2 separate regions of the Homo sapiens genome follow, and region 1 is linked to region 2. The links come from fine-mapping of genetic effects on gene expression. Tissue or cell type: whole blood. Region 2 holds a variant in brackets; the other region holds the start of a gene. All regions are shown on one strand. Distances are between the middles of the regions.

Region 1 (5,116 bases), 26 kb after region 2:
GGTTTAATATGATTGTAACAGAGCTCTCTTCATACCACTTGTTAATTAACTGAAAGGAGACTGGGATTTTTATATTTTCCACTGGGGGGAGAAATTATAGGCTAATACTAAAACAAAATTGGTAATACTAAGATCCAAAACTTGTGCTAATTACAGGTAAAATCAATCAAAATATCTTTTTAATTAAAATGTTTCTTTCCAAAAAGATTTCATTAATATCAAGGTTTCAACATGTTCTCTGAAGTTATTGGAGTTTTTTCTTTTCCTATCCTGATTTATCATAGCCTTCTTTAACTGTAGGTTATCTTCATCAAGAATCAATTCCCATGGTTGGGTTTCAGTTTTTCTTTTAACTACTGCCCCATTTGCATGTGCTAACAAGTTGGAAGAGTTGCAATCTGCTGGGTAGTAACCTCCACTTTAACAATCAACATTTGATTAATGCTCCCAACCACACTCCCTTCCCTACAGAAACTATTTCTGTAGTTTTCATAAACCAAAATGTGCAGCAATAAACTTAATTTGAAAAAACAATTACTAAAGGTAGAGTGTGTGCCAAATCATTACCCTTTGAATATTTTCATGATTCTAAGTTCTTTTTGTTTTGCTCTTTTTCCCCATTTGGAGAAGTTTACGGTGAGAATTAGAGTCATTCATCTCCATTAGACCAAATCCACTGGAGCAGATAATATATATACACATTGGTAAAGTGGAAAAGAACCAAGGAGTTAAAAGACCAAGCTTCTAATTGCAGTTCAACCACCTGTTACATATCTTCAGGAAAAAATCACAACCTCTCAACTTCAACTTCCTCTTCTATAAATTAGAAATAACAATAACCACACCTGTAACCCCAGCACTTTGGGAGGCCAAGGCAGGCAGATCAAGAGGTCAGGAGATTGAGACCATCCTGGCTAACATGATGAAACCCTGTCTCTACCAAAAAGACAAAAAATTAGCCAGGTATGGTGGCACACACCTGTAGCCCCAGCTACTCGGGAGGCTGAGGCAGGAGAATGGCGTGAACCCGGGAGGTGGAGCTTGCAGTGAGCCGAGATGGCGCCACTGCACTCCAGCCTGGGCGACAGAGCAAGCCTCCGTCTAAAAAAAAAAAAAGAAAGAAAGAAAGAAAGAAAGAAAAGAAATAATAATAACCACCATTCCTATCTCAACAGCTTGTTCTAGAAATTTTTAAAGCACAGTATCACAAACAGCACTACATAATTGTAAAACATGTATGAATATATACATCCAAACAACAGCAATGTCATAGCCTATGGGTAGATATAATCTTATACAATGTACCAAAATCCCAATTTACTTCACTAGACAAACTGTTATACCAAATTCTGTACACAGTATATCCAAGAAAATGTGTTGTTTTTATTGAGAAACTGAACCTAGCTTGGGAACACATGTGCACAGTCTAGTTCATAATATTTGGTGCAAGTATCATTCTCTAATATAGATTTACATTTTTGCAAGCAAATTTTTACTTGCAATCATAACATATCCAAATTTTCCCTTTTTACTCAATCAGAACTTAGTGTAAAGTACTACAAGTTAGTTCTTCGGATTTCATGCTAAGAAAATAATGCAGATTTTCTGCATTATTATGGTCTTCACAGAAACCTTAACTATGATGAATTTAAAAGTGCAAAATAATCCAGGATAACTTTATGATTTCAGATTTTTTAATGTTAAAAATAATGCCATCATTAATTAGAAAATTCTAAAATCATTACTTCCACTTTCTTAGGCAAAATATCAATATACTCTCATTTGCCAAATAAATTAAAAGATCTCCTACAAACACAATCTCCTAAATTGTGGTTTTATGGCTTTAATGTTTTATGTGTGGCAACTATTGATGCTAGTTAAATTTTTAGAAACTTTTTCTTTTTGATTCCCTACAGTTGTCTACAAGAACCTTATTGTAGCATGATCCTGCCAGACTTTATGCTATTTGTTGCTCCAATTAAAACTGTTTAAAACATGAATTTGAAAAATCTTATTTTAACTATAATTTTGTAGCTGAAACTTTTTTTTCTAAACTTTGCAAACATTCTATGCAACCTGAATTAGTGCTGAGAAAAATGGATCTTAACGGTTGCTCAATGTTCTTCAACAGGTGAAAAGCATAATAAAACATGCTCATCTGAACTCCACCCATTTTCAATTTCAACATAGCAAACCTCCTGTTTATTCTTAGGGCAAATTCAAAATTGTACATATTAGGATTGGTTATTACTGAAGATAATTTATGCAATCATAAGCCAAAGATGCTAAGTTGGCAAAAAGAAAACAATGTAAGTAAGCAAACTCTAACACATGTGGACACACCCTCTCAGTATATAAAGGCTTGTCACTGTCCTTGGTAGCAGGCACTCCCTGGGCTAAACAGCATCACCATGTCTGTTCGATACAGCTCAAGCAAGCACTACTCTTCCTCCCGCAGTGGAGGAGGAGGAGGAGGAGGAGGATGTGGAGGAGGAGGAGGAGTGTCATCCCTAAGAATTTCTAGCAGCAAAGGCTCCCTTGGTGGAGGATTTAGCTCAGGGGGGTTCAGTGGTGGCTCTTTTAGCCGTGGGAGCTCTGGTGGGGGCTGCTTTGGGGGCTCATCAGGTGGCTATGGAGGATTAGGAGGTTTTGGTGGAGGTAGCTTTCGTGGAAGCTATGGAAGTAGCAGCTTTGGTGGGAGTTATGGAGGCATCTTTGGAGGGGGCAGTTTCGGAGGTGGCAGCTTTGGTGGGGGCAGCTTTGGTGGAGGCGGCTTTGGTGGAGGCGGCTTTGGAGGAGGCTTTGGTGGTGGATTTGGAGGAGATGGTGGCCTTCTCTCTGGAAATGAAAAAGTAACCATGCAGAATCTGAATGACCGCCTGGCTTCCTACTTGGACAAAGTTCGGGCTCTGGAAGAATCAAACTATGAGCTGGAAGGCAAAATCAAGGAGTGGTATGAAAAGCATGGCAACTCACATCAGGGGGAGCCTCGTGACTACAGCAAATACTACAAAACCATCGATGACCTTAAAAATCAGGTAAGAGGTATTTTTAAATCCAGCTTTAAGTATCTTGTCCATGTAATCCAGACAGATGAATCTTAAATTAAGCACAATGTGGCTGTTCACTATGCTTACCCATGTTACTTTCTTCCTTCAAAAATAACCCAGTCTCATCAAAGATAAACATCTGTGAAACTATGGTCATGGCAATCTTCATCCAGCAAGTGTGCTACTTGTCTTAAGAGGATGGGAGATTTACTAAGCACTTTTGAGGTTTTAATGAGCATACAATGAGTCCACAGTTAAAATATGCTAGGCTATTTACAAATGTAGAAACTGAAAAAAAAAATCATGATATGAATCAGAACAAAATGTTATTCAGACTGATAACAAGCCATATTCAGTACCAACATGGCAAGAAAAATAAATTTTCCAGTATGAAAATGGGACACTGCTTGCCTCTAAGGAATTTCTGAATTGTACCTATTGTGTACCAGTTCAGAGTGTATTTATTTATTAGTATTTATCATGAGTTAAACAAATGCAGGTGTGAGTCAGCCAAAGCATGGCTGAAATACATGGAAATCACATAGTCTAAAAGAGGAGGGCACACTTACAGGAATACATCTATATAATTCCAGTTAGTTTTCAGAAAGGAATAATTCGTGTACAGAAATACAAGACTGGAGAAATTCCAAGAGAACAAATAATTCAAAGTTAAGTATATGGGTAAGCCTGCAATATTTCATATTTAAAATAAAAAATTTTCCCAAGATTTTGTAAGAGAACAACATAAAAGTGCAGAGTGCATCTATGTCACTACAAAAGCCATATCTGCATCTGACCTCTTCTCAAATAACTGTGCCTCTCCCTCCAGATTCTCAACCTAACAACTGATAATGCCAACATCCTGCTTCAGATCGACAATGCCAGGCTGGCAGCTGATGACTTCAGGCTGAAGTAAGTTAAGTGATCGTTGTATAATACTATCACAACGAATACATCAGTGGTTTTTAACAATGACTTGGGATGCCCTCAATAACATTTACATTTTTCTGAATTCACCCAAAGTTAAATAGTATTGGAGTTATCTGAGAAATTTTCCATGTCAGTGTTACCTTTTTGGCAATATTAAAGGAAGAAAATGCATTTTAAAGTAACTGCTAAGGTTTTTTCCATTAAACCACTATTACTTCTAAGAGAACTGTACATGACAAATATTGCCATTACATGAGATCAACTATGTAGCTGCTTTTTAAATAGTCTCTGCCCAGATACATCTCCCCTATATAAGTTATAACCAGTATTGATATCATGCTTGTTTCAGGTATGAGAATGAGGTAGCTCTGCGCCAGAGCGTGGAGGCTGACATCAACGGCCTGCGTAGGGTGCTGGATGAGCTGACCCTGACCAAGGCTGACCTGGAGATGCAAATTGAGAGCCTGACTGAAGAGCTGGCCTATCTGAAGAAGAACCACGAGGAGGTGACACAAAAGTTATACTTTTCCCAGCCAAAAGAGAGTTCATTATGGTCCTCGTGTAGCCAATAAATCTTTCTGTTCCTCAAACAGGAAATGAAAGACCTTCGAAATGTGTCCACTGGTGATGTGAATGTGGAAATGAATGCTGCCCCGGGTGTTGATCTGACTCAACTTCTGAATAACATGAGAAGCCAATATGAACAACTTGCTGAACAAAACCGCAAAGATGCTGAAGCCTGGTTCAATGAAAAGGTAAAGTAATCTTCCTTATAGTGAAACTCATGGAGGTTTTATCATTTCAGAATTTCCTCACCCTTTTCCTTGTTTTTAATACTCTAGAGCAAGGAACTGACTACAGAAATTGATAATAACATTGAACAGATATCCAGCTATAAATCTGAGATTACTGAATTGAGACGTAATGTACAAGCTCTGGAGATAGAACTACAGTCCCAACTGGCCTTGGTATGTTAACTCTCATGAAATGACTTCAACTTTATCATACAAAGTTTCATGCTCACCTAAGAATATGCAATGCAACAAAAAAATGCAGAGTTGGAGGTAAGAAAGAGAAAACAAAGTGAAGCTCATGTTAATGGAGGAAAAGTACTACTAGTGTTGATCTAAAAGTGC
Region 2 (5,219 bases):
CTAGTTAACAATCCTAGTCACCAGTTAGGTCCTAACTCAAATGCCCCTCATTAACCAAGTCAGGTTCTCCTATTCTACCTTCTCATACTATACTGTAGTTATCCTTCACAGCTCTTAGCGCAATTTGCAATTATACATTTATTTGTATGAATATTGAAATAATGTCTGGCTCTACCACTGCATTCTCTCTAAGGGCAGCGGCCATGTCTGTTTTGCCCTCCACTGTAGCCCTGGCATCTAGCACAGTGCATAAAACAGCACATATACCCTACTGCATAGGAGACAATCAATACTTGTTGAATACCTGTGCACAGAATTACGTACAAATGCTAGAATATTCACTCAGTAAAAGCTGGAATAATGCCTGTATTACTCTCCTGGGCTCAAGCAATCTGTCCACCTCAGCCTCCCAAAGTTCTTGGATTACAGGTATAAGCCACTGTGCTTGACCACCTGTATTACTCTCTAGGTACCATTAAAAGCACTCAATAAACACTGGTTGCACAAACATTGAATGGTGGCGATATATTTCTTCTATTATTTTCTTGAAATAGTCATTGAATTTTTATCCACTGATTTATTAACTCTAAATTTTCCAACACTTATCTTTGGAAAGACTGAATGAACAAACCCTACCTTATTAAGGCGCAGAAGCTAAGGAGTGTCCATCACAAAGGAAGCAAAGAGGATGGTTTGCATAGATTCCATTTGAATCTATTTGTTTTGGTTACTCTATTTAAAATATGCTTGCGTCATATGAAATTGAATTCCACTTACTTCCTTCTCCTTAAATCTTAATAAAGGAATTAGGCTGGCTGTTTGAGACTAAAAAATCCATCAAGAAGTTGTTTGCATTTTACTGAGATATTTGTTGAATTCAATATTTCCAGAAAACCCTCAAGATACTTGTCACTCTATAGGGACACAAAATTTTCTTATCTAATATGTACAATCTTTAACTTGACAATTTCACAAGGCATATTGATATAAATCATATTGCTCAATATCTGGTGACTCAGTAGAAAGTGATCTTCAGTTTCAACAAGCAGTCTTTTAATTCATGACGCTTTTTCTTAAGGAAATTAACCTGAGGACTTTTTCCCATACATCTAAAGAGTACTAGAAGTTGCTTTCAAAACATAGAGTAACTTGGTTTCCATGTAGTATTTATAAGAAAAAAAAATCTGTAGATATTCACTTATAAAGGCAAGCTTGGAATCCTCTAATTCGTCATTAAAGTGTGCTTTGTATGTAGGCAATCGCCTAACCATAGATACAAAACTGAGTTATCTTAAAATGGCTGATGGAACACTGGCTTTCCATGAAAATATTCAGTCTGAAAATGTAATACTCCTGCCAATCTAGATCAAAATAGAACTTGTTCTCCCTTAATAACGAGGTGTTCTATCTAAAAAACATTGTGCTCTCTCTCTTTGGTGGTCTAGCAGTTAGGAATAAAAATTAAAAATAAGTAAAATACACTTTTCTCTCAATCAAACTAATATTTACTGGTCACTATGGAAGCAAATGGGAGCGGACTAGTCAGGTATGCAAATAACCTTGCCTCGCCAGGTATAAAGTGACCTGCCACAGAAGTTTGGAAAAGGGAGGTAATATAAAGGGCTGGGATATGAGGACCACTCTTTACAGCAGAAAGGCATCTGAGCAGAGCCTTGAGGAGTACATAAAATTTCAACATATGGTATTAAATGGGAGTGGATTGGCAAGAATAGGACCAAAGAGCGTGTCCTCTGGAGTGTTTTCCCATAAAACTAAGTAATCATCACACCAGCTGAGAACCATAAGTTCCTTGACCCAGGTAGTCTGCACTTCCTTTTTAGAAGACGAATTTTTGTATCTTATTCCTCCTCAAAGGCTGGGCCAGGTATTATTGGCCATCCAGAAATAAGTCCCCAGTACTTAATGCAGCATCTGGCAGAAAATGTGGGCATGCCAAATACATGTAGGTTGAAATGATGTTTAGAAATATCACATTAGGTTTATACATTCATAACACATGATTGAAAAATTCCGGTAAACGGATTAGCTAAAATCCAATGAAAATTATTAATTAAGCCTTTCATTTGGCACAATTAAAAATAAAACCCTATGTTGATTGAATTTTTCATTTTGGATCCAATTATGCTGTCACATAGGTATAGCTGGAGTATATGAGTCACCCAAAATTCTATTAATCAAATCTAGAAATAATAATATAATAATGTGTGTTAATCATTCTAATACAGCAAATGAGACACAGAAAAACAAAACCAACAATATTGTAAATTACCCAATGATCAATCTTTGTTGGAAACAATGTCCTACTCAGCAGTGGGACAAGAGCAATACCTAAGAGTTGAACAACCCAGAAGAAAAAATATGAATCGTCAGGGAAAGTCTGCTTAGAGGGAAATAAGAATCCAAGGTGTATTGCTAGATTTTGCAATAACTAGATGTGGCAATACAGAAATGTGATTTTAATTGGAGGAGGAAGATAATTATAGCTTGCAAGCCAACTAGTTAATCTAAGTGACAAACTTTGGCCCCACACCCAAGAAAAGAGGGTGAACCCAAAATAGGAGTTTATCAAGTTTCCATTACAAATGTGTTCAAGACACCTGAGCCACCCTGAAACCAAACCCTGAAACCAAGGAGTGGTGAGGGGGGGGGGGGGGTTATAGGTTACTAATAATTAATTATTAAATTTAAATAGTTTCTATAAATTTACATATGAAAACAATAAATTCTGTGTTATATCTTTGGAAGTAGCATTATGCTGGTGATCAAGTGCAATGGGATAAAACACAGTTAGCAGGCATTCCTTAAAAAATATTCCCTAAGCTAATACTAGAAACAGAAAAAGAGAGGTCAGATTAATCCTACAGATTTAGAAGTGATCCAAGTTAAGGCAACCTACATGATAATGGAATTGAAAACCACGTCATCTAAGGAACAGTTGAATGAACTGGTGATCCATAACCTGGAAAATAAAA[G/A]ACTTAGAAACACAGAGTAATCTTGTCAAATACCCAAAAGATTCTCCATCAGCAAAGCTATATTCTGTGTGGCAGATTTCAGTTAAATAGAAAGATAAGCTTTTTAATAATTAGAGCACTTCAAAGGAAGGTGAAGTGCTTCATGAGACAATGAGTTTCTCATCACTAGAAATATTTTAGTAGAGATTGGAGATATCTGATAAGGGGTTCCGTTTAGTGTTGAATATTTAACAAGAGAAGAAAGAAAGGACAGATGTCTATGAGTACCCACTGTGTAGAACACTTTGTAGAAGAACACTTTGTATGTGTTATCTAAATTGGTATTCTCAGATTTATGAATTGGATATTATTTCTCACGTGAAGATTAAAAGAGATTAAGCAATTTACCATACACCCTGTAACAGGCAATGCTGGAAGGTGAAGCCTGGCAATGACCTCTAATATCCTTTGCAAATTCTGTTCTGGTTGAAGCTATAACAGTGAATGTATTATTGGTCTAGATAATTCTATCCTGATAATTTGTCTATTTATCCAGTCTGGTATTATTTCTGTCAGAATATCCACAGACTTTTGGCCAAAGAGCATATTTAGCTTCCCCCATGACATTAAATTCAAAAGATAAATCATACTTTAGGTTCTTTCCAGCTGAATTCTGTAATTTTGATGACCAGAATTCCTAGCAACTCATTTACACTAGAAAGGGCAGAGTTTTGGGGCCGGGTACGGTGGCTCACGCCTGTAATCCCAGCACTTTGGGAGGCTGAGGCAGGCAGATCACAAGGTCAAGAGATTGAGACCATCCTGGCCAATATGGTGAAACCCCATCTCTACTAAAAATACAAAAATTAGCTGGGCGTGGTGGCACATGCCTGTAGTCCCAGCTACTTGGGAGGCTGAGGCAGGAGAATTGCTTGAACCCGGGAGACAGAGGTTACAGTGAGCTGAGATTGCACCACTGCACTCCAGCCTGGGCGACAGAGCGAGACTCCATCTCAAAAAAAAAAAAAAACAAAGAAAGAAAGGGCAGAGTTTTTATTCACATGGCTCAATTCAGGCAATTGGTTGTGGGCTTCCTGGATTAATTTTATTAAGAATAATTCTCCAGCCAGTCTGGGTTCAGCAGGAAGATGTGTTATCAATTAGTAATGTCTGACATGAGTACAGGAGAGTGGCAGCAAGAATGACTTGTGTTTGTTCTCTCTAAGCTCCACATTTCCTAAAACTATTTTTCTATTTGTAATCATCAGCTTTTTAGTGAATACGGTGAGTAAATTATTCTACCAACTAACTGTTAAAAGTAATACTTACTGCCATTTTTCCTAACACCACTCATGGAGGGTACAGGAATATATCATGAAGCAAATGAAAAGCTGCCCACAAGACTAGATTGATTATCAAAAGGGTTTTTTAAAATACAAATTTAATATAAATTTGAATTACTTCAAAAAACTTACCACAGTCCAGAATCTGTTCCTCATAGCCCTGCAGGTCCAGAAACTAGACTTCACCATGCCCAGAGGTAACCTGACACTTGATGATAGACTTACAGTGACTGTATTCACACAATGCTGATGTGCACATTAGAATGCCAGTTTACTGGCAATGAAGGACATATCTTTCCAGCTGTCTAAGGCCAACTTCCTGAGCACTCACTTTCCTGCACATTCGCCACAATGATGCTTCTAAAATGCAGAATTTTTTCAGTCATTTTTAATTATACCACATGCCTGTTCTTTATGCTAAGTTCCCTATGATACAGTTTAAATGGCTCATTCAACAGATGGTTTCCTATATTACTGATGTGAGCTCTTGAACTGTGTCTTGAACCACTCTTATTTCTGATTTCTCTCTCCTTCCAGGTACCTACCTGTGCTATCTGGCTTATTGGCTCCCTGAGTGTTCTCTTTCTCTCTCTTTTTTTTTTTTTTTTTTTTTTTTGAGATGGAGTTTTGTTCTTGTTGCCCAGGCTGGAGTGCAATGGCATGATCTTGGCTCACTGCAACCTCCACCTCCCGGGTTCAAGCGATTCTCCTGCCTCAGCCTCCCAAGTAGCTGGGATTACAGGCATGTGCCACCACGCCCAGCTAATTTTGTATTTTTACAAGAGACAGGGTTTCTCCATGTTGGCCAGGCTGGTCTTGAACTCCCAACCCCAAGTGATCCGCCCACCTCGGCCTCCCAAAGTGTTGGAATTACAGGCATGAGCCACCGCGCCTGGCCCTCTTT

Evidence for each region. PIP is the estimated chance that this variant, and not a neighbour inherited with it, causes the effect.
Region 1: KRT10 starts here. The variant in region 2 is fine-mapped to the expression of KRT10 in whole blood (TOPMed, PIP above 0.99).

Annotation. Positions count from the first base shown.
Region 1 is chr17:40,819,881-40,824,996 of GRCh38, reverse strand. It overlaps KRT10 (keratin 10), which reads left to right and starts at 2,383. Exons shown (of 8, transcript NM_000421.5): 1 at 2,383-3,038; 2 at 3,880-3,962; 3 at 4,330-4,486; 4 at 4,574-4,735; 5 at 4,823-4,948. The coding sequence starts at 2,412. The region is part of intron 1 of KRT10-AS1 (KRT10 antisense RNA 1); the gene reads right to left. RefSeq lists an enhancer at 4,143-5,116.
Region 2 is chr17:40,846,278-40,851,496 of GRCh38, reverse strand. It overlaps LOC105371777 (a long non-coding RNA gene), which reads right to left and starts at 699. Exons shown (of 3, transcript XR_934754.3): 1 at 637-699. The variant G/A (reference allele first, on the strand shown) is at 2,994.